Linked DNA regions of Homo sapiens: region 2 is linked to region 1. Evidence: fine-mapped expression QTL. A gene starts in region 1. The other region holds a variant in brackets. All regions are shown on one strand. Distances are from middle to middle.

The links. PIP is the estimated chance that this variant, and not a neighbour inherited with it, causes the effect.
Region 2: its variant is the best candidate, but not a certain one, in a credible set for the expression of ZNF627 in whole blood (INTERVAL, PIP 0.65).

Annotation. Positions count from the first base shown.
Region 1 is chr19:11,591,770-11,601,718 of GRCh38, forward strand. ZNF627 (zinc finger protein 627) reads left to right here and starts at 5,714. Exons shown (of 4, transcript NM_145295.4): 1 at 5,714-5,861. The coding sequence starts at 5,859. RefSeq lists silencers at 5,499-5,628, 5,969-6,108, 8,075-8,154 and enhancers at 5,653-6,651, 5,739-5,818.
Region 2 is chr19:11,619,204-11,629,152 of GRCh38, forward strand. It overlaps the pseudogene VN2R12P. Among named protein-coding and RNA genes, the nearest start is that of ZNF627, 27 kb to the left of the region's middle. RefSeq lists an enhancer at 4,435-4,935. The variant C/T (reference allele first, on the strand shown) is at 5,540.

The DNA of each region.
Region 1 (9,949 bases):
CCAAGTAGCTGAGACTACATGCATGTGCCATTATGCCTGGTTATGGTATAAACATACTCTATTTCCTTTTTTCTTTTCTTTTTTTTTTTTTTTTTTTTTGAGACGGAGTTTCGCTCTTGTTGCTCAGGCTGGAGTGCAGTGGTGTGATCTCGGCTCACCGCAACCTCTGCCTCCTGGGTTCAAGCGATTCTCCTGCCTCAGCCTCCTGAGTAGCTGGGATTACAGGTGTGCGCCATTACGCCTGGCTAATTTTGTATTTTTAGTAGAGACAGGGTTTCTCCATGTTGGTCAGGCTGGTCTCAAACTCCCGACCTCAGGCAATCCGCCTACCTCGGCCTCCCAAAGTGCTGGAATTACAGGCGTGAGCCACCACGCCTGGCCCAGATACTCTATTTTTATAGTTTCCTCTTCTTTTATGTTATTTTTTAAAATTTTTATTTACTTATTTATTTGAGGTAGGATCTCACTCTGTGACCTAATCTGGAGTGCAGTGGCGTGATCACGGCTTACTGTAGCCTGGACCTTCCGGGCTCAAACAATCCTTCCACCTCAGCCTCCCAAGTAGTTAGGACCATAGGTGCCCACCACCATGACTGGCTAATTTGTTAATTTTTCCATAGAGATAAGGTCTCACTATGTTGCCCAGGCTGGTCTTGAACTCCTGAGCTCAAGCGATCCTCTTGCCTGGACTCCCAAAGTGCTAGGATTACTGGCGTGAGCCACCGCCCCCGGCTCTTTTATGTTGTTAATGTCACAAATCACATCTTTATATATTGAGTGCCCAATATCATAGAAATATAATTATTTTTATTACTTTTCTTGAGAAAGCATCTCGCTCTTGTTGCCCAGGCTGGAGTGCAGTGGCGTGATCTCAGCTCACTGCAACCTCCACCTCCCGAGTTCGAGCGATTCTCCTGCCTCAGCCTCCCAAGTAGCTGGGATTACAGGCATGTACCACCATGCACAGCTAATTTTGTATTTTTAGTAGAGACAGGGTTTCTCCATGTTGGTCAGGCTGGTCCGGAACTCCCAACCTCAGGTGACCTGCCTGCCTCGGCCTCCCAAAGTGCTGGGATTACAGGCATGAGCCACCATCCCCGGCTTTCTTTTTTTCTTTTTGAGACAGAGTCTCGCTCTGTCACCCAGGCTGGAGTGCAGTGGTGCGATCTCAGCTCACTGCAACCTCCGTCTCCCAGGATCAAGCAATTCTCCTGCCTCAGCCTCCTGAGTAGCTGGGATTACAGGCATGCTCCACCACATGCGGCTAATTTTAGTATTTTTAGTAGAGATGGGGTTTCACCATATTGGCCAGGCTGGTCTTGAACTCCTGACCTCAAATGATCCACACACCTCGGCCTCCCAAAGTGCTGGGATTATAAGCATGAGGCACCGTGCCTGGCCGGTCTTTTCTTAATTCTTTTTTTCTGGGCCTCTGTGGTAACTGTAATTTCCTCTGTGGCTGCCTTTGAATGACCTAATTGTCAATGTCTGGGTCCCAAGAGAAAAATAAAATAACAAAAGTGCAAAAAGAAAATAAAATTTCGGCTGAGCGAGGTAGCTCTTGCCTATAATCCCAGCACTTTGAGGGGCTGAGGTGCGAAAATCGCTTGAGTTCAGGAGTCCTAGACCAGCCTGGGCAACATAGCGAGACATTGTCTCTACTAAACCTAAAAAAATATTATCCGCGTATGGTGGCACTTGCCTGTGGTCCCAGTTACTCGGGAGGCTGAGGTGGGGGGATTGCTTGATCCCAGGAGATCGATGCTGCAGTGAGCTATAATAGCACCACTGCACGCTATCCTGGGTGACAGAGCAAGACCTTGTCTTAAAAAAAAAAAAAAAAAAGAAAAAAATCAATACCTTCCAAATTCATTATGCGAAGGGGAAAATTAAGCACTTAAGTCCTAGAAACTGAGTCTTATAATACAGCTTCTCTGATGCATGACTGATGCTTCCTTACCTTTGTTTTGAGACTGTAGCCATCAGACTCCTTGTTCTTCATTCAAACCTATACTAAATGATGTAGGATATGTATACCCTTGCGACTGTTACCGCTTTACAATAGAATGTTAAGCAACCCCCATAGAGTGTAATCAACAGTAGTCAATCACATCTGTTTTTTTTTTTATTTTAATTTTTTTTTTTATTTTGAGACAGAGTCTTGCTCTGTCACCCAGGCTGGAGTGCAGTGGCATGATCTTGGCTCACTGCAACATCTACTTCCTGGATTCAAGCCATTCTCGTGCCTCAGCCTCCTGAGTAGCTGGGATTACAGGCATGTGTCACTATGCCCAGCTACTTTTTGTATTTTTAATAGAGACAGATTTTCACTATGTTGGCCAGGTTGGTCTTGAACCCCTGACGTCAGGTGATCCACCTACCTAGGTCTTCCAAAGTGTTGGGATTACAGGTGTGATCCACGGCACCCAGCCTCAAATCTTATGTCTGTATATTAACATCTGTATGGAAATGTATTTCTGTTCAGCACCTCTGTTTTTGCCTATATAGACAATTTTCACTTTTCCCCACACTGGGATCATTGATCACTATTCTTCGGTGTCAGCATGTCCCTGATGGCCACCCTTGTACTCTGTGTTTGAATAAACTCTTTTTTTTTTTTTTTTTTGAGACAAGGTCTCTGTCATCTAGGCTGGAGTGCAGTGGTGCCATCATAGCTTACTGCAACCTCGATTTCCTGAGATCAAGTGATCCTCCCGTCCTAGCCCCCCGAGTAGCTGGGACTACAGGTGCACCCTATCATGCCCAGCTTATTAAAAACAATATATTTTTTTGAGAGACAGGGTCTCACTATATGGTCCAGGCGGGTCTCAAACTCCTGTGCTCAAGCCGTCCTCCAGCCTTGACCTCCCAAAATGCTGGGATTATAGATATGAGCCACTGTGCCTGGCCTTGAATAAACTATTTTAACTGGATCTTGAGCCTTTCGATTATTTTAGGTTGACAAAGGGAAAAAAATAAAAGGCATCAGCTCTTTATATCCCCCACCACGCCTGGCTAATTTTTTGTAGTTTTAGTAGAGACGGGGCTTCACCGTGTTAGCCAGGATGGTCTCAATCTCCTGACCTCCTGATCCGCCTGCCTCGGCCTCCCAAAGTGCTGGGATTACAGGCATGAGTCACTGCACCCGGCCAATTTTTGTATTTTTTTGTAGAGATGGGGTGGGAGGGTTTACTATGTGGCCCAGACTGGTTTCAAACTGCTAGGCTCAAGCAATCCTCCCGTCTTGGCCTCCCAAAGTGCTAGGATTGGAGGCATGAGCCACTGTGCTCAGCCCCTGGCTAATTTTCATATTTTTTAAATGGGGTTAGGGGTTGGTCTCACTATGTTGCCCAGGCTGGTTTCAAACTCCCGGGCTCAACTGATCCTCCTGCCTTGACCTCCTAAACTGCTGGGATTACAGGCATGAGCCACCATGCCTGGCCATAGATTCTTTATGATTTTTATTCTGCCATCTTCCCTGAATCCTCCAACCTGCCTTTTTTTTTTTTTTCAGGCAAAGTCTTGCTCTGTCGCCCAGGCTGATGTGCAGTGGCACGATCTCAGCTCACTGCAACCTCCACCTCCCAGGTTCAATAATTTTTTGTATTTTTAGTAGAGACGGGGTTTCACTATATTGGCCAGGCTGGTCTCAAACTCCTGACCTCGTTATCCTCCTGCCTCAGCCTCCCAAAGTGCTGGGATTACAGGCATGAGCCACTGTGCCCAGCTTAACCTGCCTTTTTTTTTGAGACAGTTTCTCTCTTGTTGACCAGGCTAAAGTGCAATGGTGTGATCTTGGCTCACCGCAACCTCCACCTCCCCGATTCAAGCGATTCTCCTGCCTCAGCCTCCCGAGTAGCTGGGATTACAGGCATGTGCCACCAGGCCCGGCTAATTTTGTATTTTTATTTATTTATTTATTTTATTTTATTTATTTATTTATTTTTGAGACGGAATCTCGCTCTCTCTCCCAGTCTGGAGCGCAGTGGCGCCATCTCGGCTCACTACAAGTTCCGCCTCCCAGGTTCACGCCATTCTCCTGCCTCAGCCTCCCGAGTAGCTGGGACTACAGGCGCCCACTGCCACGCCCGGCTAATTTTTTGTATTTTTAGTAGAGATGGGGTTTCACCGTGTTAGCCAGGATGGTCTCGATCTCCAGACCTCGTGATCTGCCCGCCTCGGCCTCCCAAAGTGCTGGGATTACAGGCATGAGCCACGGCGCCTGGCCTAATTTTGTATTTTTAGTAGAGATGGGGTTTCTCCATGTTCCGAACTCCCGACCTCAGGTGATCCGCCTGCCTCGGCCTCCCAAAGTGCTAGATTACAGGCGTGCTCCATCGCACCCAGCCCAACCTGCCTTTTAATACTAATACATTACTTTGGGTCTCATCCCACATCACTTCATCAGAGAGCATCCTTCCTCTCACCTCAGTTATTTCTACTTTTTTTTCCACGTATAGATGTTTTTTCAGGGACCGGAGGGTATGGGAGGAAGCCTTGGCACGCCTCATCCCAAATGCCCGTTTCCCGGAACATCAGGCCCTTCCTCCTCTTCCTGTCCTCCCTGGCCTAGCCTGGGCTCCCTCCCGTTCTGAGGCAAGGCGATTGCTCCATGTCACAGTGAGTGTGGAGTTCCCTGCACATACTGGTGACCTTGTGTCCGGAAGGAATTAGAAGGAAGAGCTCATGGAGTGCCAGAAGAAGACAGTGCCTACTCTGGCAAGCTAGAAGCAAGCTCTGCATTAAATGCAAATATTGGCCGGGCACGGTGGCTCACATTTGTAATCCCAGCACCTGGGGAGGCCTAGGCAGGAGGATCACTTGAGCCCAGGAATTCACGACCAGCCTGGTCAACATAGTGAGACCCCATCTAACCCACCCCACCCCCGTCACACACACAGCACCAACAACAAAATAAAATTAGCAGAGTGTGGTGGGGCGTGACTTTGGTCCCAGCTACTAGGGAGGCTGAGGCAGGAGGATCGTTTGAGCCCGGGAGATTGGGGCTGGAGTGAGCCGAGATCATGCCACTGCAGTCCAGCCTGGGTGACAGAGCAAGACCCTGAAAGAAAAAAAAGAAAGGAGGGAGGGAGGGAGGATGGAAGGAAGGAAGGAAGGAAGGAAGGAAGGAAGGAAGGAAGGAAGGAAACCAAAACAAGGCCACGCGTGGTGGCTCACGCCTGTAATCCCAGCACTTTGGGAGGCTGAGGTGGGCGTATCACTTGAGGTCAGGAGTTAGAGACCAGCCTCGGTAACATGGCGAAACCCCGTCTCTACGAAAAATACAAAAATTAGCCAGGCGTGGTGGCGGGTGCCTGTAATTCAGCTACTCGGGAGGCTGAGGCACGAGAATCGCTTGAACCCGGGAGGCAGAGATTGCAGTGAGCTGAGATCGCGCCACTGCACTCCAGCCTGGGCGACAAAAGCGAAACTCCGTCTCAAAAAAAAAAAAAAAAAAAAACCAAAACAAACCCTCAAATATCCCTCGGGCTGGGTGCAGGGAGGAAACTCGGCCTGAGAGGCGCAGTGGCTAGAACCAGTCAACACTGCTACGCACAGCCACGTTTCCATGGCTTCCTACGTCACTCAGGCCTTAGGGGGCGGGGTATGTCACCCTATCCAATCAGGGGCGCTGGGGCGGGGCCCTGCCAACTGTCCATTCAGATGGGCCCGGGAGAGGAGGGCAGGGCCTGCGCCTCCCTACGGAGCCTTTGTTTCTGGCGACCGTCCCCACCCGGGCTCGCGTCTCCGTTTCTCCGAGAGGCCCAAGGTGTCTCCGCCGCAGCCTCTGTCGCGCCGTGACCTGTACAGGTCGCGGGAGTCGTAGGGAGGACGCCGGGACACCTGGAAGCCGAGAAATGGTGCGTGTGAGGGGTCAGGCGTCCCCAGACCTGGGGGAGGGGCTGGTTGGAACCGGCCGGAACCGGCTGTGGAGGGACCTAGGCCTCCCTGCGGCGACTCCGGGGTCTGGGACCCGAGTTCCCTCGGCCGCAAGGTGGGGCTGGGCCAGGAGCTGGGACCCCGGTCGTCCTGTCCCGTCCCTGCGCGACGCCTGCGGCCCCGCAGCCCCGCGTCTCCCCACATGGTGCGGGGGCCGCGGGAGGGTCATGGGGGTATCCCTCCTCGGATGTGGTTCGTGTTGCAGGAGCTGCGGTCTGTGGCCGCCCCCCACAGTCCCGCCTTTCTCCCGTTAAAAATTTAGAGTTTATTTGAGCAAACAGCGGCTCATCGATGGAGAAGCTCCCGGTCGTGGTTTGTGGCTTGGGGATCCGTTGGAGGGAATGGAAGGAAAGGCTGTAAGGTGCAGGAGGAAGCGAACCAAATTCAGTACTTGGTTGGTGACAGTTATGCAGTCGCCTTATTTGCTCTATCTAGGTGGACATTTTCTGCTTATGTAGTCAGAGGTGGATTGGTGGTTGTGGTTTATTAACCCTAAATTTTATTTCCTTATAAACTGGTAATTTATAAGAATTTCATTTGAGGCTGGAGCGCGGTGGCTCACGCCTGTAATCGCAGCGCTTTTGGAGGCCAAGACAGGAGGATCGCTTGGGCCCAGGAGTTGAAGATCAGCCTCGCAATATAGCGAGACCCCATCTCTGTTAATTTTTTTTAAATGAACATATTCAGACTGAGACCAAAAAACTACTACAAATTTTTAAAATATAAAATCAAATAAAAGAATTTCATTCGACTTAGATTTCTGTTTCCTTGGGTAGGAAACCAGGACACCATAGCCACAGCCCTCTAATTGTCTCCAAATTAATTATTTTAACACTCCCCAGGGGGACAGGGTCCCAAATCCTTGACCTTGTTCCCCTAGCCTGACTCCTCTGGCGCTTGCAAATAATTCTTGATACCACTTCTTTCACCATATTCCCAAAAGGTAACTCCAGTCACGACATTATCAACTCTTTGTCCTTTATTGCACATTTCAAACTAATTAATTTGTATTATTTTTTCAAGGAGCAATCGATTGGTCTTTTAAAAATATTTGCTTTCTGTTTCTGAACATTTCACAGGAGAGGAAAGCAGAGAATACATGTATGAGACCCTGCTGTGAAAAAACCTTTGTGCCTCTTCTCCTTTTCTCTCTCCTAGGCACAGGGATGTTCTCAGAATGTCTTTTGGTTGGCCTGGTGCCATGGCTCATGTCTGTAATCCCAACACTTTGGGAGGCCAAGGCGGGAGGATCACCTGAGGCCAGGAGTTTGAGACCAGCCTGAGCAACATAGTGAGACCCGGACCCTAAAATAAAAAAAACAAAAAACAGTGTCTTTGGGTTGGGGTTCCCCTTTGGAAACTTTAAACTGTGATATGTCTTCAGAGCATCCTCCTTTCCTGGTCCTGGGCTTCAGGGCTGTTTGGGCTGACACAGGATGCCCACAGCAGCCAGATCTGTTGAAGGGTCTGGTATCAGCCTGCTCCCACTGGACAGCCTGAAGTACGGGGTGGGGCCTCTTAGTGGAGGAGCTGGGTGTCCTGGGGTCGGAGGAATCTCTTGATATCCCCTCCCTCTCAAAGCTCACCCCTGGGACACTCAGCTTTTCTTCCCCTAATTCCAGATCCCATTCCTTGGGGGACACATTGGTGTCCAGCCAAATGGATGATGGTATTGAGGGGAAAAACAGATATGATTCTTGCCCTCTGGATTCTTTTAGACTGGTGAAGTGAGAAAACTTATCCCAAGGACAGGAAAACCCATCCCACTGAGGTGATGCAAGAACTTGAAAAGCAAAATGTACTTCAGGCAGATGGAGGCAAAATGCAGTGTCTCTTGGAAGGGTGGTCACTGAGCCCTTCAGTGAGCAGGTTAGGGGGTGGACGATATCCCAGGTGATAGAATGACCTGACTTAGGCCGGGCGCGGTGGCTCACACCTGTAATCCCAGCACTTTGGGAAGCTGAGGTGGGCGGATCACTTGAGGCCATGAGTTCGAGACCAGCCCGGCCAACATGGCGAAACCCTGTCTCTACTAAAAAATACAAAAATTAGCTGGGTGTGGTGGCAGGTGCCTCTAATCTCAGCTACTGGGGAGGCTGAGGCATGAGAATCGCTTTAACGTGGGAGGCAAAGGTTGCAGTGAACCGAGATCACACCACTGCACCCCAGCCTGGGTGACAGAGCGAGACTCTGTCTCAAAAAAAAAGATGTGAAACTTGAGTCAGACGTACCTCTGTTCCAGGTTAGCGCAGCCCCTTCCTGGGTTTGTCCCCTGCAAAAGATTTGTTCACTTATTGCAGTTTCAGTTTTTTTCTTTTTTAAGTAACTATAAATGTATTTCATCAGTAGACCTTGAAATATAAGACAGTTTTGCAAAGAGGCAAGAAGGAAGTGGATTTCAGAAAACATTAAATATCTAGTCTTATGTTTGTTAAAAATTATTACTTATGGCTGGGCGCGATGGCTCACGCATGTAATCCCAGCACTTTGGGAGGCTGAGGCAGGCAGATCACGAGGTCAGGAGATCGAGACCATCCTGGCTAACACAGTGAAACCCTGTCTCTACTAAAAACACAAAAAATTAGCTGGGCATGGTGGCGGGTGCCTGTAGTGCCAGCTACTTGGGAGGCTGAGGCAGGAGAATGGCATGAACCTGGGAGGCGGAGCTTGCAGTGATCCATGATTGCGCCACTGCACTGCAGCCTGGGCAACAGAGCAAGACTCCATCTCAAAAAAAAAATTATTATTTTTTTCTTTCCCAAAGCAAGTGTAGTAAGTTTCTCAAGTATGTTGTTTTTTTTTGTGGGGGTGGGGTGTGGTGATTTAAAATGGAATTCCAGGGCTTAGTGTTGGGAATACTAAGGAAAAGAGAGAGAGAAAACTCTCTTCTATCATGACTGCAGAAAATGAATACATTTCCACAAGTAAGTGTAGCAAATAAATTGGTGAATTACAGAGATTCACCAAAACATCAATTCCTCTGCTTTGCAGGGTGGCAAACTTGTGACAGTGGATAACTGTTCTCTTCCTGTTATCTAGACATCAGAGTTTAATGCGAAGTCCTAGTAGGACAGGACTTGGTAACTCCTAGAAGTGTTCCAATATGATTTAGTACATGATTTGTTACCATAGAAAGAATAAATAACATGTTTATTGTCTGAAGAGGATGGATACTTTTACTTTTCCTGTTAAGGTATGAAATATAAGTGCCTTACAATTTCCTTCCTTGCTATAAACAGTGAATTTGAGTGATTTTACTGGAATCTTCAAACCCTGGGTATTTTCTCATTGAAAATTAAATGCATAACCTTGACTGGGAAACAGAGACAGCAGACTAGTGACTTGAAACTAAGACCAATCTTGAGCCTTCAAAGAGAGGACATTACAGGCCCAGTGGTTCTTGCTGAGGAGCCTCCCCTGCAGTGTCCCAGCTGCTCACAACTGACTTTGGGTGGAGCCCTTTATAGTGAGAGAAGCTCAGAGCCCTGGAAAGCTGGGGATTCATAGGCAGAGGTGGTTGAGGTGATGCCTTTCTGAGAATGTACTTGCTATTATCTTGGGTCTGTTTGTAGACGTTTCTAATGAAACAAATCTGGATTTAGGTAAGGAGTGATTTATTTTATTTTTATTTATTTATTTTTTTTGTGTGTGACAGGGTCTCACTCTGTCTCCTAGGCTGGAGTGCAGTGGTGCGATCATAGCTCACTGTAGCCTTGATCTCCTGGGCTCAAGGAATTCTCTCACATCAGCCTCCCAAGTACCTAGGACTAAAGGCATGTGCCATGATGCCTGGCTTATATTTTTAAAAAAGTTTTTTTAAGAGAGACAGGACGTTGTTATGTTGCCCAGACTGGTCTCTAACTCCTGGCCTCGAGCAATCCTCCCACCGTAGCCTCCCCAAATTCCAGGATTATGGGGGTGGGGCGGGGAGCACCACCACACCAGACAGGAATGACTATTCTAAAGGATAATCGAAAGGGGAGAAGGCACCAAGTATAAAATCTTCAAG
Region 2 (9,949 bases), 27 kb after region 1:
TAGGTTGGTTGATTTCTATTTTTTTTTTTTTTTTGATATAGAGTGTTGCTCTGTTGCCCAGGCTGGAGTGCAGTGGTGCGATCTCAACTCACTGCAACCTCCACCTCCCAGGTTCAAGCAATTCTCCTGCCTCAGCCTCCAGAGTAGCTGGGATTTCAGGTGCACACCACCACACTCGGCTAATTTTTGTACTTTTAGTAGTGAACGGGGTTTCACCATGTTGGTCGGGCTGGTCTCAAACTCCTGACCTCGTGATCCACCTGCCTCGGCCTCCCAAAGTGCTGGGATTACAGGCATGAGCCACCGCACCTGGCCAGGTTGATTGATTTATGTTCAGGGAAGCAAGATGATTCTCTGTATTTGATGCAGTGATGAGGTAAACTTAATTCTAAACTTGGTAATCATAACTGTTCTTATCCAGAAGGGAAAAGGAATGGAGTGGAGGTAAACGTAATTCATGAGAAATACCACTCAGTCATATTAGTGAGAAGAGGGGAATTTGGGTCATGTTTATGATTTGGAACATGCTGTCTTTCACCAGTTTTAAAGACATGGTTACAGAATGCCCTTTTTTTGTCTTGATTCATCATAGCCACCTAGGAGCATGGTCTCACATTGCTGGTGTCTGACATGTTTCTCTCCAACAGCGTAAGACTTGGCCTTGCAGTGAGCGGAGGCTGGCTCCTGGACTTGTGGACCTGTTTTTGCCTTACTTATTCTCTGAACACTGAAGTATTTCCTGTGATGTACTGGACACTGTTTTCCATTATGTACCTCAGTTAAAATATGTAAATTTACTTCTTAGCAAGCTGTATAATACTTTTAAAAAGCTCCTTTACGAGTCTAATGAGACTAATATATTTATGCACATTTTCTGAATGCAAGCCTAGGAAGGGAACAAAGTCAGCATCAATATTCCAACCAAGCCTTTCTTGCTCCAATAATATGCTTTTGTTTTTGTTTTTGTGTTTTTGTTTTTTTAGACAAGAGTTTCACTCTTATCACCCAGGCTGGAGTGCAGTGGTGCAATCTCAACTCACTGCAACCTCTGCTTCCCGGTTCAAGTGATTGTCCTGCCTCAGCCTCCTGAGTAGTTGGGATTACAGGTGCCCACCATCACACCCGGCTAATTTTTGTTTCGTATTTTTAGTACAGACAGGGTTTCACCATGTTGGCCAGGCTGATCTCAAACTCCTGACTTCAGGTGATCTGGCCGCATCGGCCTCCTAAAGTGCTGGAATGGATTACAGGTATGAACCACTGTTCCTGGCATATATGCTTTTGCTTCTAATTTATCAATAGGCCTCTTATGCCAGCACTACAGAGTAAAAAGCAACATGCAAAAGTCAGCTTTTTGTCTGTACACTTCCACGGAACAATCCAATCACTTCGTTGAAGGTGTCCAGCAAGCTCTTGTTGAGAAAATCCCTGTTGAAACTTCTCAGTGTCAAAAGCCCAGGTATCACAGGATAGAGTAGCAATCAGCAACCAAACCATGACTGTATGTGGAGATGACATATTCAGCCCCAGATAATGTATTCACATGAGTGAAGGGTGGAGTCATTGCCTGTCAGATTCTACAGTCATTTGGATTAGAGAGGGCAATACAGAGTTAGGTGCTACTGAATCCAACCACTGAGTCCTTCTCCCTTGAAGGCAACACCCACAGTGATAGTGTGGGCCACAGAGTAGAAACCCCACCATCAACACGACTCCAAATGTGATTTTGCCCGGGATGCAGGTGCTGTGTTGGGATGCAGGTGCTGTGTGGGGATGACCAGTGAAGGTAGGGGACACTGGAAGCACAGGGTGAGGGAGATGAACAGGACACAGCTGAGCCTGATTATTGGCCTTGACTGTGGGAGTATCTTGATGCTTCACAAACACCCCAGAGAGGACATTGTAGCACAGGCCCAAAGAGTGTTCATAAACCAGAGGGCCACCACTTTTGGAAGGCAGTGATGTGGCTTTCTGTTTGAGTCCTGATGCTCTGTTGACAGCATACACTGTTCTTCATCTGATTAGAAAAGCAATGCCGGCTGGGCGCAGTGGCTCACGCCTCTAATCCCAGCACTTTGGGAGGCTGAGGTGGGCAGATCACCTGAGGTCAGGAGTCCGAGACCAGCCTGACCCGCCTTGGACCTATTGGACTGAACAAACGGGAGCAAACACAGGAATAAAAGACAAGAGACAAAAGAGTATATTTGGAAGAAGGGGTTGGGGGGCACCTTGCCTCTAGTGGACAAGGGCCCCGAGCTTTACACAGCCCTCTGTATTTATTAGACAAAAGAGCGAGAAAAGCGGGGGGTGATTGTTGGGTAATTGTCAGTTGGCCATTTGGTTCACACCAGGCTTGTGAGACTGCATCCTTTGGACAATAGGCACTAATTTTCTCAGTAGATAACTTCAAGGAGCCCAGTGCCAGGGAGTGATGTCCCTCAGCAAACCTTTTGGTGGCAGGGCAGTGAGTTTGCCCACATCCTGCATTCATGATAAACAGTTTGCTGTTTGATCCCATATAGACTCCTGCGGAATGCTGAGTTGGTCACGTCCCACGGGCCTTCGGCTCCCTGCATATCCCCCTTTTTGTTTATGTATTAATTGAAAGAATGTAAGGCCAGGCTGAGCAGCTCTCATTGTCCGATTGGCGGTCCATCTGATTTTACAGAAAACATAGCATTAGAACTGTGTTGTGACTCTGTTAGGCCTTCTCTCTCTCTTTGCACCCAGGCTCAGCTGGCTCATGGCTCGTACTGGAGGGACCGGGCCCATGGTTGGCCACCCTGGGTTCCTCCCGTCTCCCGTTCATGGTCGCACACACCTTGAGGGCACCCAAACGGTGTGCCCATCTCCTGTAGAAACACAAGCATGCTCTCTTCCCCATGTCAGTAAATCCACCGGACTTTTCCATTGTCCTTCTTCCAGGGATTTCCATAACACTTTCAGATAAACTTTCCTCTTTTCCTCTAACACTTGTCAATGTCTTTCTGCTGGAGTCTTACCATCCGGACCAGGAGCCAAAAAAATTTAAAGTAAATAAAAATAATAAAAAGTTCTGATTGAGGTGGTAAGTGGCCTCCTATACCCCCTTTTTGTTTTTTCAACATGTGTTGTAATGTTTGATGTGCCTGCTCTATAATGCCTTGTCCTCTAGGATTATAAGGAATTTCTATTTTATGGGTTATAGCCCAAAGCTGTAAGAAATTTTGAAAAGCATGGCCAGTATAAGTGGGTCCATTGTTAGTTTTTAATTGTTTAGGTATTCCCATATGAGCAAATGATGACAGATGATGTCACCATACATGACCAGCTGTCTCACCTGTTTGGCATGTAGCATGCAGCATTTGAGAATAAGTGAAATAAATTAAGCAGTTCTGGGTCTAGTGTACTTTTAACTGTAGCAGTTTCTACGCGACTGGCTACATTTACAACATAAGCTGAATCACAGACAATGTTGATAGGATCTGAAGCTGTGAGCTGTAAAACCTGAATGACTGCAGTTAGCTCTGAATGTTGAGCTGAAACCCCAGAGGTCGTTATTGTTTTGGGACCTTTTTGGAATCACAAATACTGGAGAATTCCAGGGGCTAACTGACTTTTCTTTTTTTTTTTGAGACAGTCTCGCTCTGTCGCCCACGCTGGAGTAAAGCTCTGTCTCCCGGGTTCATGCCATTCTCCTGCCTCAGCCTCCCAAGTAGCTGGGACTACAGGCGCCTGCAACCATGCCCAGCTATTTTTTTTGTATTTTTAGTGGAGACGGGGTTTCACTGTGTTAGCCAGGATGGTCTCGATCTCCTGACCTCGTGATCCTCCCGCTTGGGCCTCCCAAAGTGCTGGGATTACAGGCGTGAGCCACCGCGCCCGGCCTGCTAACTGACTTTTCTATATGTCCTGTGTTCAATTGCTCTTTTACCAACAGATGAAGTTCATCTAGCTTCTTTTGTGATAGGGGCCATTGATCCACCCACACAGGTTTGTCACTGAGCCATTCTAATGGTAAGGCAGTGGGCAAAGGAGAAATATCAAATATCAATGACCCCCCCGTCAGAAATCCTTGTGTCCTAGCCCTTTTCTATCTGTTTTTCCAGTTACTGATATCGGGTTAGGATTTCATTGTAGAAATTTCCCTAAACCTTTTTCACTCTGATATCCCATGTTCTTCAACATTTTAAATCCTGGATTATCAAAGTTTTCATTTGTAAGTCTCCTATCCCATGCTGTAAGTCTCGACCCCATAAATTGATGGCTATATTTGCAACATAAGGCTGCAAAGTCCAGAGCAAGCTTAAAGTTGTAAAAGTTCTTTAATAAATAAACAGAGTAACCTGATAGGACGGGCGCGGTGGCCCACGCCTGTAATCCCAGCACTTTGGGAGGCCGAGGCGAGCGGATCACGAGGTCAGGAGATCCAGACCATCCTGGCTAACACAGCGAAACCCCGTCTCTACTAAAAATACAAAAAATTAGCCGGGCGCGGTGGCAGGTGCCTGTAGTCCCAGCTACTCGGGAGGCTGAGGCAGGAGAATGGCGTGAACCCGGGAGGCGGAGCTTGCAGTGAGTGGAGATCGCACCACTGCACTCCAGACTGAGCGACAGAGCGAGCCTCCGTCTCAAAAATAAATAAATAAATAAATAAACAGAGTAACCTTAGCTCTCTGAGTGCTAGTAAACTCAGATCGAGTGATTGAATTATGTGGTCTCTACTAGCCTGCTGCTTTTCCATGTTTACCAGACCCATCAGTAAACCGTGTTAAAGCCTTAGGTATGGGGGAGTGAAATACCGCTTCGAATTGCCTTTTACTTAAACGAATCCTGATGATATGAGGGTCATAACTTAGCATTTGGACTGCATTAATCATTAAGATTGCTAGCTGAAATAGTAATAAGTTTAAAAAGAAAATCTGAACGCGTCTCTAGAAGCAGAGACTTAAATGATATACTTTAACCATGTGCTTAAAACCACGGGCGGAATAGCTTAAATCTTGTAATTGAGTTTTTGGGCTGACCAAGTTTATGGACTTTAATCTGGCAAACAGTCTTGAAAACAGTGACTCACTGGCTGGGGAACTCAATTTAGGACTCTTTTAGCAAGTACAAATCACACTATCTGTAATCAGTGGGTAAGACAGTCATTCATGCATAAGTTTTCACTACACTTACAACTTTTCTTCACTTTCTGAGAAGGACACAACATTTTTACCTTCTAATTTGACAAATATCATTTAATTAGGTTTAAAGTTCTCCTTTAAAGGGTAATGTGTGGTTTTACATGCCTAGCTTTTAATTACTCATTAATGAATTCGTGGGCCCTCTGTAATCTCTTTCCCTTCAGAGGTTACTGTTTTACTTAAATTGAATTTGGAAAGCTACCTTAGGGGTAGGAGAGAGATAACAGTGGCCATTATTAGAAAAGAGGTTTTTCAAATTCTTACATTTTACTTAAATCTTAGCAGAGAATCATAGTCTGGGACGTACGTAACACATGAACTTTTGCTATGGGCTGCTCACAGAGCCAGAGGGCTGCGGTGCAGGTCCTTGG[C/T]GGCGGCCGCATTGTACTTGCTCAGGTTTTGCCTGTGTCTGCGCCGCTCCCTCCCTCCTTTGCCGGGGGTGGGGCATGCTGCCAGCCTGGGCGGACCTTGTGGGCTTGGTCGCTGCCAGCTTTTCTGCTGCTGAACCTTCTATTCCGCCCACCGCTTGCTTGGTCGCGCGGTTTCGGCTTCTAATGCCTTTTTTCTTTCTTTTTTTTTGAGACGGAGTTTTTGCTCTTGTTGCCCAGGCTGGAGTGCAATGGCGCGATCTCGGCTCACCGCAACCTCCGCCTTCCAAGTTCAAGCGATTCTCCTGCCTCAGCCTCCCGAGTAGCTGGGATTACAGGCACTTGCCACCACGCCCGGCTAATTTTGTATTTTTAGTAGAGACAGGGTTTCTCCATGTTGCTCAGGCTGGTTTCGAACTCCCGACCTCAGGTGATCTGCCCACCTCAGGTGATCTGCCCGCCTCAGCCTCCCAAAGTGCTGGGATTACAGGCATGAGCCACCTCGCCCGGCCTTTCTTATCTTTTTACAGACATACACCTGCTTGCCTTGCCGATTTTGCATTACTGAGCAGGTTAAGAGCTCTCCTTCTAATGCTGCCTGCTCAAGACAGGGACTGATAGCTGTAGCGTATCCTCTGTCCTTTTTCCTATCTATTGGAGGAGGAGGCTTAGGTAAGACCTCTGTTTCCTCTTTGTTATTTTTGGCCCAGTGATATTGGGGCTGAGGGAAGAGAAGGTGATAAGGCAGGTGACGTTTTCTCCTCCTTCCTCTTTTTAGGCTCTTCTGTGTGTAAACTGAGCCAGGACTGCTCTAATTAAAGCCCATAACGTTAAAGATTTTACTGGGACCTGATGCCTTTGCACCTGATGTTGTTCAAGATTTCTCCCCACTCATTCCCAGAGTTCTAAGCCTAGCGTTCCTTCTTCCGGGAACCATGGGCTTATGTACTCCATTATTGACCACACTAGTTTTTAATTCCTTCAACAACTTAAATTCTAGTGGGGTGTGTTCATGAATAAACTGCTGTGGATTATTTGAATCGGGCCTTACGGAAATAGGAAAAGTGCAAGGTCCTAAGGGCTCTCCAGCTATGGCAGCAGAGCATAAAGTTGTTTGTTTTGGGGTCTCTATTTCTGCTACTGAAGGAGGCAGTACAGATGTTTCTGCGATTGGAGGAGGCGGTATAGGCCAATTTTTATCCTCCCTCACCTGTTTTTTATTTTCAGTTGGCGCTGTGGGTGGGACAACAGATTCTTTCAGATTTTTAGACTCAGCCTGCTGTCCCGCAGAATAATAAGGAGCTAATGGCAGAAGTACAGTATGAACTAAACTCCAAGTGGAGAAAACTGAAGAATCAACTTTAAAACCTTTTTGATGAGCCTGTTTTAATCCTTCTCCTGCTCTGTCCCAATTTTCCGCATCAAGAGTGCCTGCCTGTGGAAACCATGGGTGATGCGTGAATAACCATTTGTGGCTTCTGCAGGAGGTTAGTTAGTGCCTGCGAATTAACCTGAGCTCCAGACTGTCTCAACAGAAACTTAAGCAAGTGCACATAATGTTTTTCTTCAGTAGACAAATTCTTCCCCTTGTTAACCTGATTCAGAAAACTTCCCCTTCCCAGTACTTCTTTAAAGCACTGCCCCCAGTACTTCTTTAGGGCACTGACCTTACATACGCTATCGGCAGACTCATCCCGGAGTCCCCGTGCGTCTTGTCAATTTCAGTTCCTCTACTCCAGCAGACCTTCTTCGTTCACGTCCTCATAGTCCCGTGTTTGGACTGCCGCCTGTTCGAGTGCCACTTATAGAGCTTCCGATCCTGTCGCTGTTTGGGGTGCCACTGTGTAACCTGCACGGACCTAGGGGGACTGAACAAAGGGGGGCGAACGTGGGAATAAAAGACAAGAGACAAAAGAGTATATTTGGAAGAAGGGATGGGGGCAGCACCTTGCCTCTAGTGGACAAGGGCCCCGAGCTTTACACAGTCCTCCGTATTTATTAGGCCAAAGGGATAGTGAGAAAAGAGGGAGTGATTGTCGGGTAATTGTCAGTTGGCCGTTTGGTTCTGTTTGGTTCACAGCAGGCTTGTGAGACTGCATCCTTTGGACAATAGGCACTAATTTTCTCAGTAGATAACTTCAAGGAGCCCGGTGCCAGGGAGTGATGTCCCTCAGCAAACCTTTTGGTGGCAGGGCAGTGTGAGTTTGCCCACAACCTGCATTCATGATAAACAGTTTGCTGTTTGATCATATAGACTCCTGCGGAATGCTGAGTTTGTCGTGTCCCAGCGGCCTTTGGCTCCCTGCACTGACCATCATGGAGAAACCCCGCCTCTACTAAAAATACAAAATTAGCCAGGTGTGGTTGCGCATACCTGTAATCCCCGCTACTTGGGAGGCTGAGACAGGAGAATCGCTTGAACTCTGGAGGTGGAGGTTGCGGTGAGCTGTGATCACGCCATTGCACTCCAGCCTGGGCAAAAGCGAAATTCTGTCTCCAAAAAAAAAAAAAAAAAAAAAAAAAAAAAAGAAAGAAAGAAAGAAAAGAAAAGAAAAAAGAAAAGCAACGCTGCAGTTTGTAAGTTTCAACAATTTAGAATTAAAAGTTATTTTGGCAATCTAGGACTCATTCTTCATTCTGGCTGCAGACAGAGCTATGGATAGGGAATGTCACACATATTTTTAAGGTTATGTTGTCTTTTATGTTAAATGGATAACATTTCCACTTTGCGTTTCCATATGCAATGGAAGGCCAAGGCAGCAGAATCCCTTGAGGCCAAGACTTCAAGACCAGCCGGGCAATATAGTCAGACTGTGTCTCTACAAAATATTTTTTAAATTGTTTATATAATTTATGAGATTCCAGTGTCATGCTGTCAGCTAATATTAGGAAATTAGTAGGTGTGACTATGGTATTCTGGTTATGAGAAATGCTTCAATTTATTTTATTTTATTTTTTTTTTGAGACGGAGTTTCGCTCTTGTTGCCCAGGCTGGAGTGCAGTGGTGTGATCTCAGCTCACTGCAACCTCCGCCTCCTGGGTTCAAACGATTCTCCTGCCACAGCCTCTCAAGTAGCTGGGATTACAGGCATGCGCCACCAGGCGCAGCTAATTTTTGTAGTTTTAGTAGAGACGGGTTTCACCGTGTTGGCCAGGATGATCTCCATCTCTTGACCTCGTGATCCGCTCGCCTCAGCTTCCCAAAGCGCTGGGATTACAGGCATGAGCCACCGCGCCCAGCCTTTTTTTTCTTTTCTTTTCTTTTTTTTTTTTTTTTTGAGACGGAGTCTTGCTCTGTCGCCCAGGCTGGAGTGCAGTGACGCGATATCCGCTTACTGCAAGCTCCGCCTCCCGGGTTCACGCCATTCTCCTGCCTCAGCATCCCGAGTAGCTGGGACTACAGGCGCCCGCCACCACGCCCGGCTAATTTTTTGTATTTTTAGTAGAGACGGGGTTTCACCGTGTTAGCCAGGATGGTCTCGATCTCCAGACCTCGTGATCTGCCCCCCTCGGCCTCCCAAAGTGCTGGGATTACTTACATGCTTGAGCCACCGCGCCCGGCTTTTTTTTTTTTAACAGTCTCGCTCTGTCACCCAGGCTGGAGTGCAGTGGCGTGATTTCGGCTCACTGCAACCTCCGCCTACCAGATTCAAGCGATTCTCGTGCCTCAGTCTCCTGAGTAGCTGGAATTATAGGCGTGTGCCACCACTCCTGACTAATTTTTGAATTTTTGGTAGAGATGAGGTTTCACCATGTTGGCCAGGCTGGTCTCAAATTCCAGACCCCATGTGATCCGCCTGCTGTGGCCTCCCAAAGTGCTGGGATTACAGGTATGAGCCACTGTGCCCAGCCTCAGAAGTGCTTCCGTTCTTGAGATGTGAAAATTGCCTTTTTAGATATACGTTAAAAAAAAAAAAATAGAGATGGAGCCTTAGTATGTTGACCAGGCCGGTCTGGAACTCCTGGCATTAAGCGATCATCCCATCTAGGCCCCCCATAGTGCTAGGATTACAGGCATGAGTAACCACACCTGAGATGTTTTATATTTGCAGTTTTTAATAAAGCAAAGTCAAAAAGAACAATTTTTAGGATAAATGACCTTAGGTTGAAAACATTTTTATTTTCAAGGAAAAATTTGTGAATTCATTCCTGTACCAAAAAATTACATCCAGTTCATTTACTACAGCATGAAATTTTATTGAAAAGAACTTAATAATTTCAAATGTGAGCAGAGGTTATTTTATTCTTTCCTTTCACTTACTGTCTGTCTCCCTGAGTTTCTTTCTTTTTTTTTTTTTTTTTTTTGAGACAGAGTTTCACTCTTGTTGCCCAGGTTGGAGTACAATGGCGTGATCTTGGCTGACTGCAGTCTCTGCCTCCTGGGTTCAAGCAATTTTCCTGCCTCAGCCTCCC